4 linked regions of the Homo sapiens genome follow. The protein of the gene in region 4 purifies or fractionates together with the protein of the main gene of each other region. This does not show direct contact. Each region holds a gene or a part of one and is shown on either strand. Other genes may lie near its edges.

Region 1 (5,090 bases), on a different chromosome or scaffold from region 4:
TCAAACAAGGGGAATTTTATCCAGTCCCATTGAATATTGCTGATGTATTTTCATTTCACAAAAAGATACACCATTTTTTACTGTAAAACTTTTATGTAGGATGTTAAACAAAATACATTAAGAGCCACAGACAGCCCTTTCAGAAAAAAATAAAATAAACTACATGCCTGCAATATTAACAGAATTTTTATAATGTAAATGTTACCTTCAGTATTTGAAGTGCAGAGTGACCCTAGGTACAACACACTTTCCCATAGGCCAAACCTCAGGGGACTGCATTTTTTGCATGTCGTAGTGAACTGCAGAAAATTATTTGTATTATGGATTTATTTTTAATCTTAACAATTTAATGCTGTAATGAGTTATTTTTTCATTTTAATATTTAACTTCAAGAGGCCTATTGCATTCTTTAGAATGGATTTTATTTCATTTCAATTCCAAATGTTTTCCCATGAAAACAATGTTAATTTTATTATTAAAAGTCAATGGGAAAAAATAATTTCAATTTCTTTTTTTCTTTTTTGAGATGGATTTCTGCTCTTGTTGCCTAGGTTGGAGTGCAACAGTGTGATATAGCTCACTGCAACTTCTGCCTCCCAGGTTCAAAAGATTATCCTGCCTCAGCCTCCCGAGTAGCGGGTATTATAGGCATGTGCCACCATACCCAGCTAATTTTTTTAGTAGAGACGGGGTTTCACCATGTTGACCAGGCTGGTCTCAAACTCCTGACTCAGGTGATCTGCCCGCCTCGGCCTCCCAAAGTGCTGGGTCTACAGGAGTGAGGCACCGCGCCCAACTAATAATTTCAATTTCTATACAACTCCTTATATCAACCATGTAAGAATATACAATAAACATTAAATTAACACAAGAATAAACGTTTTCATTTTTTTGTCTGCATTCTTGATTAAAGACCAAAAGAAGAAGTCTATTAATTAATAGTGAGTCTATCTATCTTTTTATTGTATTAGAAGAAAGTGAAAACCAGAAAAAGATGCTTACCATAGCAACTTTGGCTTCATAATCATTGGAAATCTGGATACAAACTTCTTCAGCTCTTGCTTGACAAGCTCTTTCTACCACATCTTTCCACTGCTTTTGCACTACGGAACGCCAGACTTTCCAGACTTTCTTCAGTAAAGTTCTCTGGTAGTACTGGTCAGCTAGTTTACCTTCATAAACCTAAATAAAAGTAAAATATAACTTCAAAAACACAGTTGATTGATAAATATATTGGTAGTAATAATAAACATAACATGGTGGTAAGTGTACATATACACATTATTTAATTCTATGTAATCATATTATTCTCATCTTGCATATAGGAGAACAGGCTTAGAGAGGTTAAGCAAGCTACGTAGTTCACATAAGTAGATGAGTAAAGCCAGACTTGCCTGACTCCAGAGACTGAGCTCTTATCCATTACATCATTGCTTTATGCAACTAATCAAGTTAGAGAAAAAGAATACAACCAAATGAAAGAAAATGAGCAAATCACCACTTGCCATCTTAGTTATGAATTTAGCAGGACCAGGAGAATAACAGAGTGGCTAGAAGGCAGGAAATGGTGGTGGCTGTGGCTTCAGATGACACTGCTTTCTCTTCAGTTTGATGGCCACCACAAGCAAGATTTAATTTATAAACCCTGCCATCATATATGGTGCCAATCCAAATAAAAACTTATGCTATTTTTCTTTTATCAATGAATTTAAATTCTTTTGAAGAAGTAGTTCCAATTCTCAATTTCTTCAGTTTGAAAAACTATCCAAAAGTGACAGTAGCCTCAACTATTCTGGCTAACATTTAAAAATAAATATGTATTCTCATTATTTCACTTGACAAGTTTCAAAGTAGAGTATAAATATTCATTTTAACCAGCTTACTTAATGTGGATTTAATCTACTGGGATTAATTAAAAAAATGAAAAATCCAGAAAGTATTCTTAAAGGAGAAATCTTATTCCAGGATAAAGTAGGTTGAGCATCTCTAATCCAAAAATCTGAAACTTTTTGAGTGTCAGCATGACACCACAAGTGAAAAATTCCACACAGAAGTACTTAACACAAACTTTGTTTCATGCATAAAATTATTAAAAATATTGTATACAATTACCTTAGGCTATATGTATAAGGTGAAATATGAAACATAAATGAATTTTGTGCATAAGGTGTGATATGAAACATAATCTAAAATCCAAAATTCTCCTGGTGCCAAACATTTTGGATAAGGGATACTCAACCTGTACTAGCTTTTTCCTTAAATACTAATCTCTTGGAAACTAAATACACAGAGATTATTCCATAGCTCACATGAATATACATGGAAAGCATATATATATATATTCATCTCCTATATTCATGTGTCTCTAAACTATGTCTTGTTGTGGGATATACTCATACTTTTCCACTTTTGATACAACAATTTAGTATTCTCTTTCAGTTCACTATTTACTGATATACCAACTCAGCTCTTACTTAAAATAAAAGATGTTCAAGTTTAAATGATATACTACAAGCTAAGGATAACTTTTAAAAAGCTGTACAGGTATGGCTTTCTCTGACTCTCACTCTAAGGCAAGTCTACATAACAAACATTTATACTGTGATTTAATGTATAAATATAGTAAAGCCTCTTTATGAATAAGTTGTATTCAGGCATTTTAAAAGTAGAAACAATATAGGAAGCATTTGATATGTTAAACATAACTTCTTTCTCCAATAACCACATCTGAGGGGGTTCTATTACCAGGGCCTTTACAATTTAGGAACAATCCTTATTAACCTACTATGAAGCAGGAAATGATGTATCTATTGTAATATATATATATTATATGTCAATAAGATCTAAACTGTATTTTTTCCAAACTACATCAAAATCAAATTCCTTTGAAATAAGAGGAACATTAAATCACAAATTCATTTTGACTTATTAGAAAACAACTATAATAAGTGATCCTGAGCACTTCTGAATTCAGAAGTCTAACATCCATCAGCTGTCTTCTGCTTTGACACTTACATCCTGTCTGGCTCTGACATGGCCGATTCGCCAGTGGAAGAATGTTCTCATCAACTCTATCTTTTCCTTTTGCTTGCCTATGGCATGAGACAAGCTAGAAATCACCTGTAAACAGCAATTAACCCAATTATTGTGATATTAAAATAACAGCAATTGGTAAAGTGATTTTCTCATATATCAAAAAATGCTAGAGAGGATAGGTATGGATCACTACTATATTCATTCAGTTAACCTCATTATTATCTTTAAAAAGATGGTAAAACTTTCTCACATGAATATACTAGATATCAACTAATGAAAGGGAACAAAAGAAGAAGGAAGTCTTCATTATGTGTATATGGTAATCACCAATAAAAAGTTTATGTATATGCAAATTAGCTACTGACATTCAATTCAGGTAAAACAATTATACATTTGAAAGTTCTCCTATATACACCATGTCTTTATTCACTAGATTTGAGGGCAGGGGCCAGAATATTTAGATATTTAAATATCTTTCTGGTCCCTACTACTATCTTGGATATAGAAGTTCCTCAACGACTGTCCAATGATTTTCTGGATTAAACAAACCTATAAAAGCAAATAATAGTTATATATGTAACTATTAATATGTTATAGTTATATATATAACTATATATTATATATGTTATATATACCTATTAATAACATGTTATACATATAACTATTAATAACATATATAACATATGTCATACATAAAATGTTATATATATAAGTAAATATATATAATTAATGTTATACATATAACATATTAATAACATTATATATAACTAATGTTATTAATGTTATATGTTGATGTACTTCTTCAGTGATATTATTACTCTTGTTCTTAAAAAAAAATTCAGAAGGCTTTAAAATCCTAAGATAATATTCTCTCTTATAAAAGAACTGAATAACTGAAATAAATTTCTAAAAATAGTCACATTAGAAAGAGATTTTGTAAATTGGGCACATTTACCAAGAGATATTTATAACTGCTCTTTAAATAATTTCCAGAGAGGAAAAGGGCATACATTCTAAGCTACTGGAAATATTCTATGTGTTAAGCTGAATCGTAGTACCTGTCTATCCACTTTACTCATTCTCATAAACTGAACATATGATATCTATATTCTTTGTGATACTTCAAAATAAAAAAATTAAACTTAAAAACCATGGGACAGAATTTTGAGTATAACAAAGAAAATGACTGACATTAAAATCCATTGTTTCAAAAAAAATTCTATAAAATGTTCAATTTTATACGAAATCAAGGTATGTTTAAAAAAATTATAATCTTTAATTCATGAAAACACTTAAGTGCTACTTCTGCAGACAAGCAGCTGAGGTGTCTGCCCAAGTCCTCCTCTTCTGAACAACACCACTCTCCTATCCATAAGTGGATGCCCCTCCGGACATCCATTTATAGCCGGGCACAGATTTGTTGCCCATCTGCTTTGCTCCAGGTACTGTGTCAGGAGGCAAAAAATTAGCACAGACTTGAATCTTACCCTCGAATTCTTAAGAAGCTAAAGGAAAGTGAAATAAAAGATGTTTTCTGTGTTTATCAATAAAATGAAGAAAGCCTTCATTAATGAAAACACATCCATCACAGATAGAATTTGAGATGCTTAAACCCAAGCATGGTGGTATGCACTTGCAGTCCCTGGCAGGGGCTGAGGCAGGAGGTTCACTTGAGCCCCGGAGTTTGAGATTGTAGTGAGCTATGATTATGCCTATGAATAGCCACTGCTCTCCACTCTGGGCAACATAGCAAGACCCTGTTTCAAAAAGAGAGAGATTAAAAAAAGAATGTGAGATCCTTAAAATGACCCCTAAAAGGATGGTTTAAAATGTAGATAATGCTCGTTCCTTCACGTTCGCTTAAGGTTAGGAAGAAAGGATTAGAAAGAAAAAAACTAGTGTACTTACATTTAGCACATACTCTTTTTAAAAAAAAATTTTTTTTAAATTGACAAATCATAATAGTTTTATACATTTATGGGTTACAAGGTGATGTTTTAATGTAGTTTACAAAGCAAACACTCTTAAAACATCAAGAACACAGAAGTCAATGG
Region 2 (4,758 bases), on a different chromosome or scaffold from region 4:
GGTTGAGCATCCCTGATCTGAAAATCTGAAATCTAAAATGCTCCAAAATCCAAAACTTTTTCAGTGCCGACATGATGCCACAATGAAAAATTCCACATACAGCACTTAACACAAACTGTTTCATGCACAAAATTATCAAAAGCGTTGTATAAAATTACCTTTAGGCTATGTGTGTAAGGTCTATATAAAACATAAATGAATCTCAAGTTTAGACTTGGGTCCCATCCCTAAAATATTTCATCATATATATGCAAATATTACAAAATCAAAAATAAATCTGAGATATAAAACATTCCTGGTCCCAAGCATTTTGGATAAGGGATATTAGGGCACAGTGTACACTGCCTGGGTGATAAGTACACCAAAATCTCAAAAATCACCACGAAAGAACTTATTCATGTAACCGAACACTACTTGTTTCCCAAAAACCTATAAGAAAGGAAAGACAGAGAGAGAGAGGGAAAGACAGAGAGAGAGAGAGAAAGAAAGAGAGAAAGAAAGAAAAAGGGAAGGAAGGAAGGAGAGAGAAAGAGAGAAGAAAGGGAAAGGGAAAGGAAGGAAAGGGAGGGAGGGGAAGGAAAGGGAGGGAGGTGAAGGCAGGGAGGCAGGGGAAGGCAAGGAGGCAGGAGAAGGCAGGGAGGCAGGGGAAGGCAGGGAGGCAGGGGAAGGCAGGGAGGCAGGGGAAGGCAGGGAGGCAGGGGAAGGCAGGGAGGGAGGGGAAGGCAGGGAGGCAGGGGAAGGCAGGGAGGGAGGGGAAGGCAGGGAGGCAGGGGAAGGCAGGGAGGGAGGGGAAGGCAGGGAGGCAGGGGAAGGCAGGGAGGGAGGGGAAGGCAGGGAGGGAGGGGAAGGCAGGGAGGGAGGGGAAGGCAGGGAGGGAGGGGAAGGCAGGGAGGCAGGGGAAGGCAGGGAGGGAGGGAGGAAAAAAGAAAGAAAAAAAAAGACAAGACAAGAAAAGAAAAGAAAGAAGAGCATCTGGGAATTCCAAACACACCAGGCTGTAGTCAGCACAGACTCCCACTCTATGCCACCATTCAATAAATATATACTGAGCACCTACTACTGCAAGGCTCAGTTCAAGCAGTCTGAGTCTCCATATGTAACAAGAGGTTCCTGACTCTTGCAGGCTTAGAGGGAACATGCCAACACATTTCTATCATCGCTCTGTGCCATTTCTAATGATATGTGCAATAAAGACCACTGAGTTTACTTCCAGAGCATCAGAGCGAAGGCACCAAGGGGTGCTATTTGATATGGAACTCAAAGACAGATGGCAGAGGCAGCACAGACAAGGGAGATGTTCCAGAAGGAAAATGCAAAAGCCTAGAAGCCAGAAAACACATGGCACACTTGAGGTGTAGAAAATGGGATGGGTCTACGGGAAGAGGTGGTTCGTTTAGGGAAGGGTTGTGGGGCTGTCTTTGGGGTCTGATAGACCCAGGTTCAAATCTGTCTGTGTAACTTCAAGCAGGCTGAGGTATTCTGAGCTCCATCTCTGCATTTATAAAGAAGATAATCATAAGCCTCAGAGGTTGTTATGCAATGATTTAAGGTAAAATAGTAGCACTTGTCCACTGTATAGTGGGTGCTTAATAATCGCTCCCTTCCTCGCTTGTCTTGACTCTGGCAGTAACAGGAAGAAATCACGGAGAAACCTAAGCAGGGATCAGACACGACTACCATGTCGCATTTTCTCTCTCCCATGGCACTTTACTTTTTGTCTGTACGCAAATACATGTTCAAGCAGCTGAGAGAAAGAAGACAGATTTGTGGTTCTCTCAGCTGTCACATACAACCACAGCTGACTAGTGTGTTCCTGCATCCACACAGTGGGGTCCCCTTCCTCCATCCATGAATCAAGGAGACTCAATTTGGGACCCAAAAGAAGAAAAGCTGAGTGTGGAAACACAGCTCTCTCAGCCAGCTGCCCTTACCTTCATGGAGTCATACAGCCGATCAGCAAAATACAGGGGCTTGTTCTGAATGCACTGAACTGTGGAGAGAAGAAAGGGAGTCAGCGCTGCAGCTGCTCTGGTCTCTCCTCTACCAATGAGAGAGGATGCCCTGGCCCTGGGCCACAAACCAGAAGTGACCTAATGCAATGGAAAAGGGCTGCAAAATAGGACAGGCTAAGGGAAATCTAGAAATCCTCTGCAATACTAAGTTCCACCACGGTTTTAAACCAGGGGTCTCTGAGGCCTGCAGAACCCAAGTGCATACGTGAGTTTCCACAACACACCCCTCTCTCCTCCTGTTCTCTTACTCCTCCCTGGCAACAATCTGTTACCAAGTTAGGCCTTTCTTCAGTTTTATATTCTGAAATCTATACAATTAAGACTGTAAAACTATCCAAAGCATGCATAGAAGCCACACCTCCCAAACACATTTGGATTAACAGGATGGCCATCTGTCACTTCTGCTCTGGTAGCTGATGTCTACCAGGAATGGGGGCCACATTCACTTACCCAGGTTCAGGAAAGCATTTTCCAGGTCTCCTTTAACCTCTTTCCTGATGCTTTCCAACATGTCATAAGGGCTGTAACTCTTGTACCTATCAAATACTGAGGAAAAACAACAAAGAGTTATCAGATCCGAGCCACTAGTCAAAGCTGTCAACGATCACCCACCTAGTTTTATGCACCATAATTTTTTTAAAAATTGAGGATGATCACAGCATCCTAGGAGCTTAGAGGTTACCACGGTGACCAGAGCCAACATTGGCCAAGTTTGTCGTGGAACAGCCATACCACCTGTCCTGAATGGCACTGCCCAGGCCACATATTTGGACCATCTCTATCTCCCCTGAGTGGAACCCATTCCATCCGAAAACCATAGGAAACAGTACAGAGCATGCACCAAAGTCCACTACTTCAACAAATAATGGCAAGACCAAATGATCATCAAACAAGAAGGAGCTGCAGAATAAAGCACCAAATGCAGAAACTATTTGCAAGAGAAAAGAATCCAGAATGGGAGAGAAAGGTGAGGGAAAATGGGTGAGCCTATGAGAGTGCCAAGCGGAGACAGAACCTCATTCTGGCAGACTCCATCCCAACATGGACATCCACCCAGCCGCCCCAGCCAGGGCCCCAAGGCACTGAGACTCCCTCAGCACAGTGCCCACCTTTCTGGAGGTGGGGCACGCTCCGCTCGGTCATGATGCTGATCCACTTGGGAACATCAGTTCCTTTCCTCTTCACTCCAGCGTCATAGAGATCCTACGAGTACAACCAACCAGGAAAAGTTAACTACACATCCAATGTAACGTCAAAAAAAATGTCATGCAAAAAAAACAAAAAAAGCTACACATTCAAAATGCCAAACGAGGAAAGATGATTATACTGCAGACATGGGCAGAGACCTACTATTTAGGTCAAAAGTCTTAATCACAAGCAGTCTTCCTTAGGCACAGATGGATACCATATGAGACTGCAGATAGTTCGTGAGGTCTGCTGTACAATCTCCTTCCTTGAATAAGAAAGGAGGGACCAAGAGCTTGTATTCATATAAAGAAGAACAAGTAAATGTTCATTAACACATCTGGCCCTCCTCCCTTTGGGCACATTTAGGGGCAGATAAGCTAGCAGATGTTTACTGGACAGCTACAGACCAGGCTCTCATTCTCAAGCTTCTCAGAGACTCAGGGAGTGATGGAGCTGGAAAAGGAGCCCATCTCATCTCACTTTCAGTTTCTGGAAAATTTAGGGGCTACAAGTAGCCCTAACAATGGCAGGGAGGGCAAGAGGAAGAAAGGCTTATGCAAGGGTAGATATTCATTCCGTGATCTTCCACCATCTAGGAACTGCAAAACCCAACTTCTATTACTTTATTTAAAACCCTTCTCTACTACCTGCTAGAAGTGCCGTGTGGAATATATTGAATTTTAAAACTAACATTAATTTAAATTAATTTTTTTCTGCAGCTTTTATGACTTACTTTGAGATAATCGTTGTCCCTCTGAGTAAAGAATATAGTTCATTGCAGTCTGAATAAGCTTAACAAATAGTTCTCAGAGATAATGGAACTAGAACTGGCAAAAGTCTTATTCAGCCAGAAAAGGACAGGTCTCTGCTGGCCTCCCTTTCTCCCCCACCACAACAGAGCAGTACACCATCCTGTCCCTGGCTGTGTCTCCTCCACCTTCTTCTGCTTCCCACCTGCCTGCCTGATTGGTATGCACAGCCACATTACACTCTGCAGAAACTGATGCTTCCATACAAGCAAAGCCTGAGTGAGCATATGTGAGTCACGTATTGATTCTGTAAGTAACACCAGCATTATAAGAGAATGTCTTCTAATAAACATTGCTGTCAGACTATGGTGGGTTTAAAATACGGCCAGAAATTCTTTGAGGTTCCTCCCTTCCAAAGGAAGAGCCTAATCCCCTCCCACTGAGTGTGGGCTAGACTCAGTGACTCACTTTTAATGAAAAGAGTATGACAGCAGTGCAAGGTGGGACTCCTGAGGTTAGGTCATAAAAGACACTGTGGCTTCCTCTTTGCAGATTGCTTGCTCTGGGGAAAGCCGGCTGCCATGTTGTGAGGACGCTCAAACAACCCCATGGAGAGGCATATGTGGAGCGATTCTAAGGTCTCCTACCAACAGTCATGTGAAGTGCACCATCTTGGAAGCAGATTCCCTTGACCCAGTCAAGCCCTCAGGTGACTGCAGCCATGCAACATTTTGTCTGCAACCTCAGAAAAGACCCTGAGCCAGAACAATTGGGCTAATCTACTCCTCAATTCCTGACACACAGAAACT
Region 3 (5,090 bases), on a different chromosome or scaffold from region 4:
TCCGCCTCCCTGTAAGCTCCGCCTCGCGGGTTCACGCCATTCTCCTGCCTCAGCCTCCAGAGTAGCTGGGACTACAGGCACCCGCCACCATGCCCAGCTAATTTTTTTGTATTTTTATTAAGACGGGGTTTCACCGTGTTAGCCAGGATGGTCTCGATCTCCTGACCTCGTGATCCGCCCGCCTCAGCCTCCCAAAGTTCTGGGGTTACAGGCGTGAGCCACCGTGCCCGGCAATCTTAAGTAACTTTTTGACAGAATATCTGACACTGAGGAGGCAAGCCTTTGGAAATAAAGTTGCCTGGATTTTAAAAAAGCAGGAAATCCAAATGGTATTTATTGTAATTTGGAAATCTTAAATTTGGAGATCATCTGCTTGCTTGATGTTACTTTCCACAGACTTGTTGGAAAAAGATTTATCAGATGTTTGTGTTTCAGTACTGAGGTGGTTGGAACAGTAAACATCAAGATATCAAATACAGATTACATCCTGTCTCTTTAGGGTTTGGTCAGAGAAGAGGAGGCATAGGAATCTGTCACAGTTCTGCTTGCTGCTTTACTTTCTTGTTTGTGAAGCTCTTCCCTGTCATTTAGTATTATGGGGCACCTGTTACAGCATTACAGTTAATGGTCTGTCAGAATTTGCATTATAAAACTGGTTTTCCTGTGAGGTTTATAAAACAGTTATAGAGGGAAATATGACATATTAGCGAACACACCTTGCTTTTTATTTGGGTTGGCATTAAGAGGTTTAGCTTGATTGTTAAAACGGTGAAAGTTACGTCACGTTTAAACTTATTTCCTCCCTTGTACAAGCCTTTAGAGAATTGGCACCATATTCAACAATACTTTTTTTTTTTTTTTAAACATGAAGGGTGGGTTTGCTTGGAGTTTCTGGTTTCTTAGAAGGTATCAGCAATCTTAAATTAGGAAAGTATTTTAATTCCTGAGACAGGTAAGTTGTTTCCTTAAAAGTCTTAAATCTGTTTTCTCCGTTTTCAAGTCCTTGCAGCACTTTATATGACCATGTATTTACAATCTGGACAATTCTTTTTATGTTTGTGGAATGTAATATCTCAGAAGTTGAGATTTAGTTGAGTCTATTGAGTCTATTGTCCTTTGCCTAGTGTATTTCTCATATGAAAACTTTGGTTTGTGATCATGAGGGTGTATGCATTATTTTTATTTTTTCTTTTTTTGCAGTTCATAGCCCTGATGAAGCAAGTTACTCTGCTCTCCTAATAAATGCAAGAAAATGACCTTGGAGGGCCTTTTTAATTACACATAGAAGTGACAATTTGTAAGTTTAAGGTTGGGTGTCATGGAATAGAATGGAAGAAATTGATGCTAAAAACTTTGGCTATGATGGGGCCTTTCCTAGCCCAGGACTTGAATGATTATTAAGGATCCTTTCCTCACCTCAAAGCACAAACATAAAGATTACCAGACTTGGACTGGAAAGCCTTTATCACTAGGAAAGGGGCCATGTATTTTTACGTTTAATCCCTTAGACCCATAGTGTACGATGTGCACACAGTAAATGTTCAGTGACCAAATTTTGGTTACTCTAAAACGAATTCAGTATTTACTTTTTGCCTTTAGTTCTTCAGGTAGAGGTAGGACATAATGTGATAGAGAGCAGTTGAAGAAAGTTAATTTTTAAAACCTTAGATTTTTTTGGGCTTACTTGTTGAGGGAAGTAAACTACATTTTCTCTCTCTTTTTTTTTTTTTGAGACAAGTTCTTGCTCTGTCACCCAGGGTGGAGTGCAGTGGTGGGATCTCGGCTCACTGCAGTGGGTTCAAGTGAGTCAGCCTCCGGAGTAGCTGGGATCACAGGCGCATGCCGCCGTGTCTGTCTAATTTTTGTATTTTTAGTAGAGACGGGGTTTTACCATGTTGGCCAGGCTGGTCTCAAACTCCTGACCTCAAGTGACCCACCTACCTCGGCCTCCCAAAGTGCTAGATTACAGGTGTGAACCACCATGACTGGCCAGTTTTCTATTACTTTGAAAGCGCTCACAATTGACATCTGTCTCTTTGTATTTTTTGTTAGAGAGATGAGGTTTCACTATGTTGCTCAGGTTGCCCAGGCTAGTCTTGAACTCCAGAGCTGAGTCCTCCCGCCCTGGCTTCCTAACTGCGATTACAAGTGTGCACCTGTGTGGCTGGTGGAAGTAATATTTTAAACTATTGATCATTTAGTGTCTCCTGTGCAGGAGATTTTATTATTTTGAGAATTCATGGCATCTTCCATGAGAGTTTATAAGGACTTACTTTAAGTGAAGATTTCAGTGGTGTGGGTCCACACTGAGGCATAAAATAATCTTTTTGTTTGTTTGTTTCCCACTTAAACCAGGGTAAGGAACAAGAAATAGCAATGTTATTAGCAAGTTGCTTGAGGTTGAACTTCATGGCTTGCTTTAATTTAGCACAAAGTACACTAAATGCAATTTAAATTTTTTATTGATTACTCTTTGTCATAATCTTTACGAGCATCAGTTACTTCCATGTGGAAATGCCATGATGCACTTAACATATAGAGGCTGAGTGTTGGTGGTTGTAACTTTTTAAGTTGGGGACACTTGACACTGAAACCCATGGAAGCTCTCCCCCAGAAAACATGGGTGTTTCCTTAAGCACATCCTTGGATTCTAGTTTAAGTGTTTAAATTCTGGTGACTTCTTTTTATGATTTCTCTGTGATCCTTTTACTGCCACTGTTACCATGTATTGTAGTTAAAATGCCTGTTGAGAACAGTGATTTTTCTGCTTATTGGTCATTAACTTGAAAATCAAATAAGAAGCCTGTTAGAAGTTTTTAAAACTTGTGTACACTGGCTCCAAGTAGGAGCCTCAGGGGTTTTCTTTTGAGAAAAACCCACTGGTTTTACTGTGGCCTTTATTTAAGTTGCTTAGAGGTCTCCTCAATGCCTTCCTTTTGATTATTCTAGTTAGGGACTTCTTTTTTTTTTTTGAGATAGAGTCTTGCTCTGTTATGCAGGATGGAGTGCAGTGGCATGATCTGGGCTCACTGCAACGTCTGTCTCCTGGGTTCAAGCAATTCTCCTGCCTCAGCCTCCCGAGTAGCTGGGATTACAGGCGTGTGCCACCATGCCCTGCTAATTTTTGTATTTTTAGTAGAGACGAGGTTTCACCATGTTGGCCAGGCTGGTCTCGAACTCTTGACCTCAGGTGATGCACCCGCCTCAGCCTCCCCAAGTGGTGGGATTAGAAACGTGAGCCACCATGGCCGGCCATAGTTAGGGACTTCCTAAGGAGTGATTGTGTCTGATCCTTAATTTTGTAAGCTTTCGGTTGCTTGTCCAGCACCTGGTAATTGATTCACATTGAACTAAACACGCATAATGGTGGTTTATAAACATCATACTACTGATCGGTTGATTTATAGGACAGATCAGTTGCCTTTCTCTGTAAAGAGCCAGGTAGTCAATATTTTAGGTTTTGTGGGTCATATGGTCTGTCGCAACTGCTCAAGTCTGCAGTTGTGCCAGAGCAACCATGGGCAAAATGAATGTGAAAGTGATATTTATGGATATAGAAATGTAAAATTTTTATGAATTTTGTATGTCATGAAATGTTCTTTGGCCCTCTACCCTCAACCATTTCAATATGTGAAAATCACTCTTAGCTCAAAAACCATACAGAAACAGGCTGTTGACCCCTGATTGGTTGATTGATTGATTTGAGACAGGGTCTCACCCTGTTGTCCAGGCTGGAGTGCAGTGGTGTAAATTCCAGGGCTCACTTGATCCTCCCATCTCAGCCTCCCCAGTAGCTGGGACTGCAGGCATCCCACACCAGGCCTGGCTAGTTTTTTGTATTTTTTGTAGAGATGGGGTTTGCTATGTTTCTTTGTTCTCGAACTCCTGAGCTCAAAGGTTCTGCCCACTTTGGCCATCACTCCCTGGCCTCCCCAGATTTATAGTAAGACACAGCAGCTACTTGATTGTTTCTGCTGGTGGCTGAGCTCCCTTCTAGGAACCTGAAAATGCAAGTTGAAATTAGAAGTTTGTTTGGAGGTAGTTGGCTACGCTGAGGGCTGTGGGTTGTTTTTGTTTCGCTCTTTTTGCCCAGGCTGGAGTGCAATGGTGGTTTTTTTTTTGGGGGGCAGGCTCTCTCTGCTGCTCAGGCAGTAGTGCAGTGGCACGATCACGGCTCAGCAACCTTCTGGTCTCAGGCAGTTCTCCTGCCTTAGCTTCTGGAGTAGCTGGGATTCTGATCCTAGATCCCTTTTGAGGATAAAATGTGTAAGAACAAATACCTTGGTCATCTCTCACACCCTCCGGGGGGGTCAAGCTAAGAAGACCTGTGTAAGAGGATATGTATTATAAGATTGTGTTCCACTACAGAGGGAGATAATGTCAAGTAGGGTGTATGTGTCACAGCAATCAGAAGTTAATGCCTACCACTCCGGGAGAACTCATACTCCTGTGGTAGTGTTTAAGGAACTGCTGACACATTCTTCCAGCTTTACCTTTTGTGTGCTTCACTATGCAAAATGAATGGCATTTGTGACCATCTTGCCATGAATCTGTGTTTCAGTTTTCAAGTTAACAGACTGTTGTTCATTGATTACATTTTCAGTTTTTGCTCTCTGATAACGTATCATGGCCTTAGTCATTCACATGACCTCTTTTTAAATCCCAGTGTACATCCAGGAGGAAGAAGCCCATAGTCCAGGAATCTGGGAGGAGGTGGCTGGCACAGGAGGAGAGTGCCCCTCCACCCACCTGGGGAACTGGTCTTTGGTTCTTCCACTGCCTTTGCACTAGATCTACTTATGTGTGTTTGTGCAAGTTGATAAACATGCAGAAATCCATGTACTCCTCTTTAAAAGTAGGAAAGGTGGATTAAATTATTTTAAATTGTTTTTGAAATCCTCTCTAGCTCTGCAGTTAATTATGATTTTATGGGTTTCTTTTGGGAAGATTTCTTTTTTTTTTTGAGATGGAGTCTTGCTTTGTCACCCAGGTTGGAGTGCAGTGGCATGATCTTGGCTCACTGCAACCTCCATCTCCTGGGTTCATGCAATTCTCCTGCTTCAGCCTCCCAAGTAGCTGGGATTACAGGC
Region 4 (5,090 bases):
GGGGACAGCGTGCCCATGCAAATCCACTCTCCCTCACTTAGAAGTGGAGTAGATGCAGCTGCTTCCCTAATCTCTCTGTTTCCCGGTTCACTCTTCACTCTAATGGAAAGGGTCATAATCATATCAACCTCAAGGGTTGTCTGAAAGGCTTGATTAGTTAATAAGCAAAACACGAAGAGGGCCTGGCACAGAGGAAGCTCCCAGCGAGCATCTGCTGGCTGTGCTTCATTGGTGGTGCTGAGGCCTGTCCTGTGACCCCGAGCCCTGCCCCACAGCCCAGAGGAATCCATACTGGTGCCCCCAGGGCTTAGTGTCCCCCCTGAGATGAGGCTCCTTCTGCCACTGCTATCTTCCCACTGCCTCCCAGAAAAGCCATTGGCAGTCATCTTGCTGCCCTCTCTGGACTTCTGGACACACAGCACAGACAAACAGAAAGAAAAAAAGTTGTGGAGGGCAGATAAACAGAAGGCTGAGATGTTCCCACCATGGCAGGACAGTGGCTCAGGAGATAGTGAGGCCCAGCAGGCTCCAGATCGCCAGGGAACGGGCTGACATCACAGCACCTGGGTTCTCAGCACAGTTGCCGTAAGGAGGGATTTTATCTCCTGCTCCCTCCACTGGAAGCAACAGCAGGGCCACAGAGGAGAGCCTTGTCACTGGGCTGCTCAGCCTGCTTCCAAAGGGCAAGATGCTTTTCTGCTCTGTGTGCAATATCTCCAACACCTGTGTAACCCCAAGCCCTGGAAGTCAGATTCCCTTAGACCCCAGCAAGGGCCAAACATCATTAGGAGGGTAAATCTGCTGCCCCCAAACCCTAGTCCTTTGGAGGTTTGCCAAAGGAGATTGACAAAGATCTGAGCCCAGCTGCCATGATGAAGCCCTGGGCTCCAGGTGTTGCTGTGTTTTGTGTGGACTTAGCACCGCTGACATTGACAGCTAAGGACTGGCCCCAGGAAGAAAGAATGATGGGGGCACTAGATGGCTTTGGAATCTAGAGGCATGGGGCTTCTTCTGGAGGAGTTTGTTCTGGAAAAAAAAAAAGACACATTCTTCAATATCCCAGTCTGCCCATTGGCATGTTGTCCATAGCAGTCCTACCACACACTAGGCCCTGTGATAAGTGCTTTCTCTGTATCATCTTCCAAATAGCCTAGTGAAATGGACAATTGTAGTCTCATTTTACATTTGAGATAGCTGAGGCCCAGAGAAGTGAGGCCAGTCAAGTTCATGCAGCCAGGAAATGACAGATTCAAACTCAGGTCCCAGAGGTGGCCCTGGAAGACTTCCCAGGCTGATAGTGTGGTGGTGCCTGCGCTCATCTTTCCCGATGCAGCCCAGGTGCCTCTGCTCTCTTATTAGCTAGGGTAGGTGGTAGGCCAGGAGCCTGTCGGGCCGGGCAGAGGCTCAGGCCCATGCCTCTCCTTGGTCCCCAGTCTGTGGAAAACTGCATGTGTGTTCTGCACAACCTCTCCTACCGCCTGGACGCCGAGGTGCCCACCCGCTACCGCCAGCTGGAGTATAACGCCCGCAACGCCTACACCGAGAAGTCCTCCACTGGCTGCTTCAGCAACAAGAGCGACAAGATGATGGTGAGCACAGCATCAGCAGGGCGGGGCCTGCCCCATCAAGCACCCCCCCAGGAGCCACTGCCTCATCTGCCCTTTCCTCTGGGCCCTCCTGGAGCCTGAAGCCAGCCCTAAGGGACAGGCCCATGCTGACACCTTGGCCTGGGGCTCAGGGTGCACTCTGGGAGCTGGGTAGAGGCCATTCATCTTGCACAAGGGGGAATCTGTTCTTGGAACTGTAGGGGCTCAGACCACCTTAGAGGTCAAAAACTCCAGCCTTCTGTTTGCAGGCCTTGGTCTTTCTTCCTGTATAGTGGGTCAAGTCTCCCCCATCTTCTCCCTTGCCCTTGAGGATCTGAGGAAAGCCAGAACTCTCACTCTTTCTGGCCTTGGTTCCCACCATCTCCTGAGCCCTGCCAGGTTTCCCCAGAAGCAGAAGCCTACCAGGGATGGGTTGTCAGGTCTCCTTCACTGGGCCCAGCTGTGGAATCCAGGTCTCAGACCACCCTCTTTGGCCCAGGGTGGGTCAAACCTACTGTCTGAGTCTGGAAGAGGAGGAAGCATCATGATGGGAGAGTCCAAAGCAGCCCCACATATCTGGAAGGTTTGGGCCAAGGCTGCCCTGGAACACAGCTCCCAAGATGCCAGGATGCTCTCTTCTCCCACATCCTGGGACAGTCTGGGGGACCATGGCCCATTCCTGCATCCCATGGAGCTGCTGCAGTGCATAGAGGAAAGGGGTGCAGCGGGGCTGTCCTGGGCCCCCTGCCTCTGCAGGCGCTTCCTCAGCTTGCCCTATCTGGAACCACGACCCTGAGGCTGGGGGGATGGGGACAGAATGCCTGGGTTGTGTCCTCTCACAAGGCTCCCCATTGACCCCCCTGACCGGCTCTTTATCCTCAGAACAACAACTATGACTGCCCCCTGCCTGAGGAAGAGACCAACCCCAAGGGCAGCGGCTGGTTGTACCATTCAGATGCCATCCGCACCTACCTGAACCTCATGGGCAAGAGCAAGAAAGATGCTACCCTGGAGGCCTGTGCTGGTGCCCTGCAGAACCTGACAGCCAGCAAGGGGCTGGTGAGTGGGACTGTACCTTCTCTACTGCAGCAGCCCCATCCTCCAGCCACCGTCCAGCCTCTGCTCCCTCCTTTTCCCCCCAGCCTGTCCCCTGACTTCGGAGCCTCCCATGAGCAGAGTGTGCCTGGCATATGCTGGGCTCTGGGCTGGGCAATGGGGAAACACTCCTGCCCTTTAGGAGCTGCTGGGGGATGCAGAGAGGGTGGGCCCACTGATGCTGGATTCTGTCCATGCACACACAATCCCCTTGGCCACATGGCTCCCGGTCCCCAGCTGGCCTCCTGGGCTCTGCTTGAGGTCGGGGAATGCGGCGGAGAAGGTGTTTGGCAAAAGGAGTTTCCCATTTGTTGAACTGACAAAGGTGGAAAAAGAGGGTTTGGGGTCCAAGCAGGTCCAGAGAAGATGTGACAGAATCCGTGCAGATGTTGAGGCCAAATGTATGTAGCTTGGAGGGCACAGTGGTATGGGGCAGAGCCAGAGGAAACCTGTTGCAATCAAGAAGAGTTGAGATGGGCCAGGCGGCCAACTGTTCTTCAGCTTTACTTAGGAAAAGGGAACCGAGCAGCAGCAGCACTAGAGTAGACCGAGGGCAGAGAACTTCCCTGGCTGTGAGGAGAGAGGCTGGGCAGTTCTGAGAATGCCAAACCCACCTAGACCTGTTACACCCAGGATAGCTATGTTGCTTAGAGGCCTGGGCGAACTGGCCTACCTCTAGGGGACCCCAGTTCTCTCTCCATGTGGGCCCAGACCCTTTCTTAGCCCTCTTTTCTCAGGCAAGCCCTCAACAAATATGTGTTGGATTCTAAAGAGGTAGGAAAGTTGGAAGAAGATGGCCAGATGTTTAATTGACAAATACCCTTGACCATATAGTTTCACATGGGCAGATAGCGTGGGGAGATGTAATGGGGGCAGCGCTGAGACAGTGGGGTGAGAGAGCAGCATTGGACGCTTGGGTTACTCTGGAAGCTAACTCTGGGTCACTATGAGTAGGGGAAATGAGACTTCCCTCTCTCCACCCATCTGGGCTGCAGGCTGATCCAGGAGACAGGATCAGGGCTGGGAAAGGGGAGGTGCATGTTAGCCTAGGTTTCTGTAGTTGCCCACATGTGAGCTAGTGCTTCCAATATGAAAGAGAAAGGGTTCTGGGATGTCTGCCTTTGGGGCTCCTTGCCCCTTTCTGCCTGCCATGGTGCCTGGGAAGCCACAGGCTAGCTCATCATCTACTCCTTCTCTCTTAGATGTCCAGTGGCATGAGCCAGTTGATTGGGCTGAAGGAAAAGGGCCTGCCACAAATTGCCCGCCTCCTGCAATCTGGCAACTCTGATGTGGTGCGGTCCGGAGCCTCCCTCCTGAGCAACATGTCCCGCCACCCTCTGCTGCACAGAGTGATGGGTAAGGTCCCTCTCTCTCCTCCCCCTCTAGCTAAGACATGGCAGGCTCCCTACAATTCAAGCCTGCTTGAAGGTCATCCTTTAAGCCATTCCCTGGGATGAGCATTCCAAGAAAGGAAGCTGGCCAAAGACAGGTATGGAGACAGGAGAAGGGAGCCTGTCACCTGAGGGCTGGGAGCAGATCTGCAAAAGTCCTATCTGGGTCTCTGAGCCCTGAGTTGGAGCTGCCAGGAAGCCCTGAGGGCCACCTGGCTCAGAGCCCGGCAGAAGGCTATCGAAGAGTGTGGCCCCAGAGGGAACCCCTCAGCCCTTCCTTCCCCAGTCATCCTGACCCTGTGCCCCAACTCGTTCCTCTCCCAGGGAACCAGGTGTTCCCGGAGGTGACCAGGCTCCTCACCAGCCACACTGGCAATACCAGCAACTCCGAAGACATCTTGTCCTCGGCCTGCTACACTGTGAGGAACCTGATGGCCTCGCAGCCACAACTGGCCAAGCAGTACTTCTCCAGCAGCATGCTCAACAACATCATCAACCTGTGCCGAAGCAGGTGGGCGGGGGGTTGCTCCCACGGGCTGCACCCCAATCAGAGCCCCTCCTCACCCTGCACAGCAGGAAGCAGTCCCGCAGCTCTCCATGGAGTAGGGGAAGCACCAAGGGCAGGGGGAGCCAGGGACGGGGGAGGCTTGAATGGAGGAGAAGTTCCAGAAGCCGAGAGTGCGTGGAGAGAAGGGTCCAGCATCCAGGCCCCAGGGCTGCATGGAGGGAAGAGGCAACACACTTCCTGGCTGGGGGACTCGGGGGCACAAGGTCCTCAGAGGGCCAGCAGGAGGCATGGGGCAGCAGGTCCAACTGAATAGGGACTTTATCCTGCTCTGTGGGGCTCTCTCTTCCCCGGACAAGGCTGGGGACTGGAGTGGAAGAGCACTGCCACCTCATGGCCCCTGAGGAGAGTCCTGGGGTGCTCTAGGTGGGCAGGGGCATGGGGTTGTGCCCACTGGGTAGGGTGACCAGGCTCACCACACCCCAATGGGGCTCCTCTCTTTTGCACACCTGA

The links.
Region 1: the proteins of PKP1 (region 4) and POC5 purify together in Homo sapiens (co-immunoprecipitation; one large-scale study listed by IntAct). This does not show direct contact.
Region 2: the proteins of PKP1 (region 4) and ANXA2 purify together in Homo sapiens (affinity purification with mass spectrometry, with the first as the bait; one large-scale study listed by BioGRID). This does not show direct contact.
Region 3: the proteins of PKP1 (region 4) and JADE1 purify together in Homo sapiens (affinity purification with mass spectrometry; one large-scale study listed by BioGRID and IntAct). This does not show direct contact.

What each region holds. Positions count from the first base shown.
Region 1 is NC_000005.10:75,689,381-75,694,470, forward strand, and holds part of POC5 (centrosomal protein POC5), read right to left. Parts: intron 3,121-5,090; coding exon 3,016-3,120; intron 1,183-3,015; coding exon 1,003-1,182; intron 1-1,002. UniProt on the Homo sapiens protein: Essential for the assembly of the distal half of centrioles, required for centriole elongation. Acts as a negative regulator of centriole elongation.
Region 2 is NC_000015.10:60,349,262-60,354,019, forward strand, and holds part of ANXA2 (annexin A2), read right to left. Parts: intron 3,216-4,758; coding exon 3,122-3,215; intron 2,559-3,121; coding exon 2,463-2,558; intron 1,991-2,462; coding exon 1,932-1,990; intron 1-1,931. UniProt on the Homo sapiens protein: Calcium-regulated membrane-binding protein whose affinity for calcium is greatly enhanced by anionic phospholipids. It binds two calcium ions with high affinity. May be involved in heat-stress response.
Region 3 is NC_000004.12:128,815,167-128,820,256, forward strand, and holds part of JADE1 (protein Jade-1), read left to right. Parts: intron 1-1,281; exon of another isoform or gene 1,282-1,297; intron 1,298-5,090.
Region 4 is NC_000001.11:201,320,545-201,325,634, forward strand, and holds part of PKP1 (plakophilin-1), read left to right. Parts: intron 1-1,433; coding exon 1,434-1,589; intron 1,590-2,468; coding exon 2,469-2,645; intron 2,646-3,883; coding exon 3,884-4,037; intron 4,038-4,396; coding exon 4,397-4,583; intron 4,584-5,090. UniProt on the Homo sapiens protein: A component of desmosome cell-cell junctions which are required for positive regulation of cellular adhesion.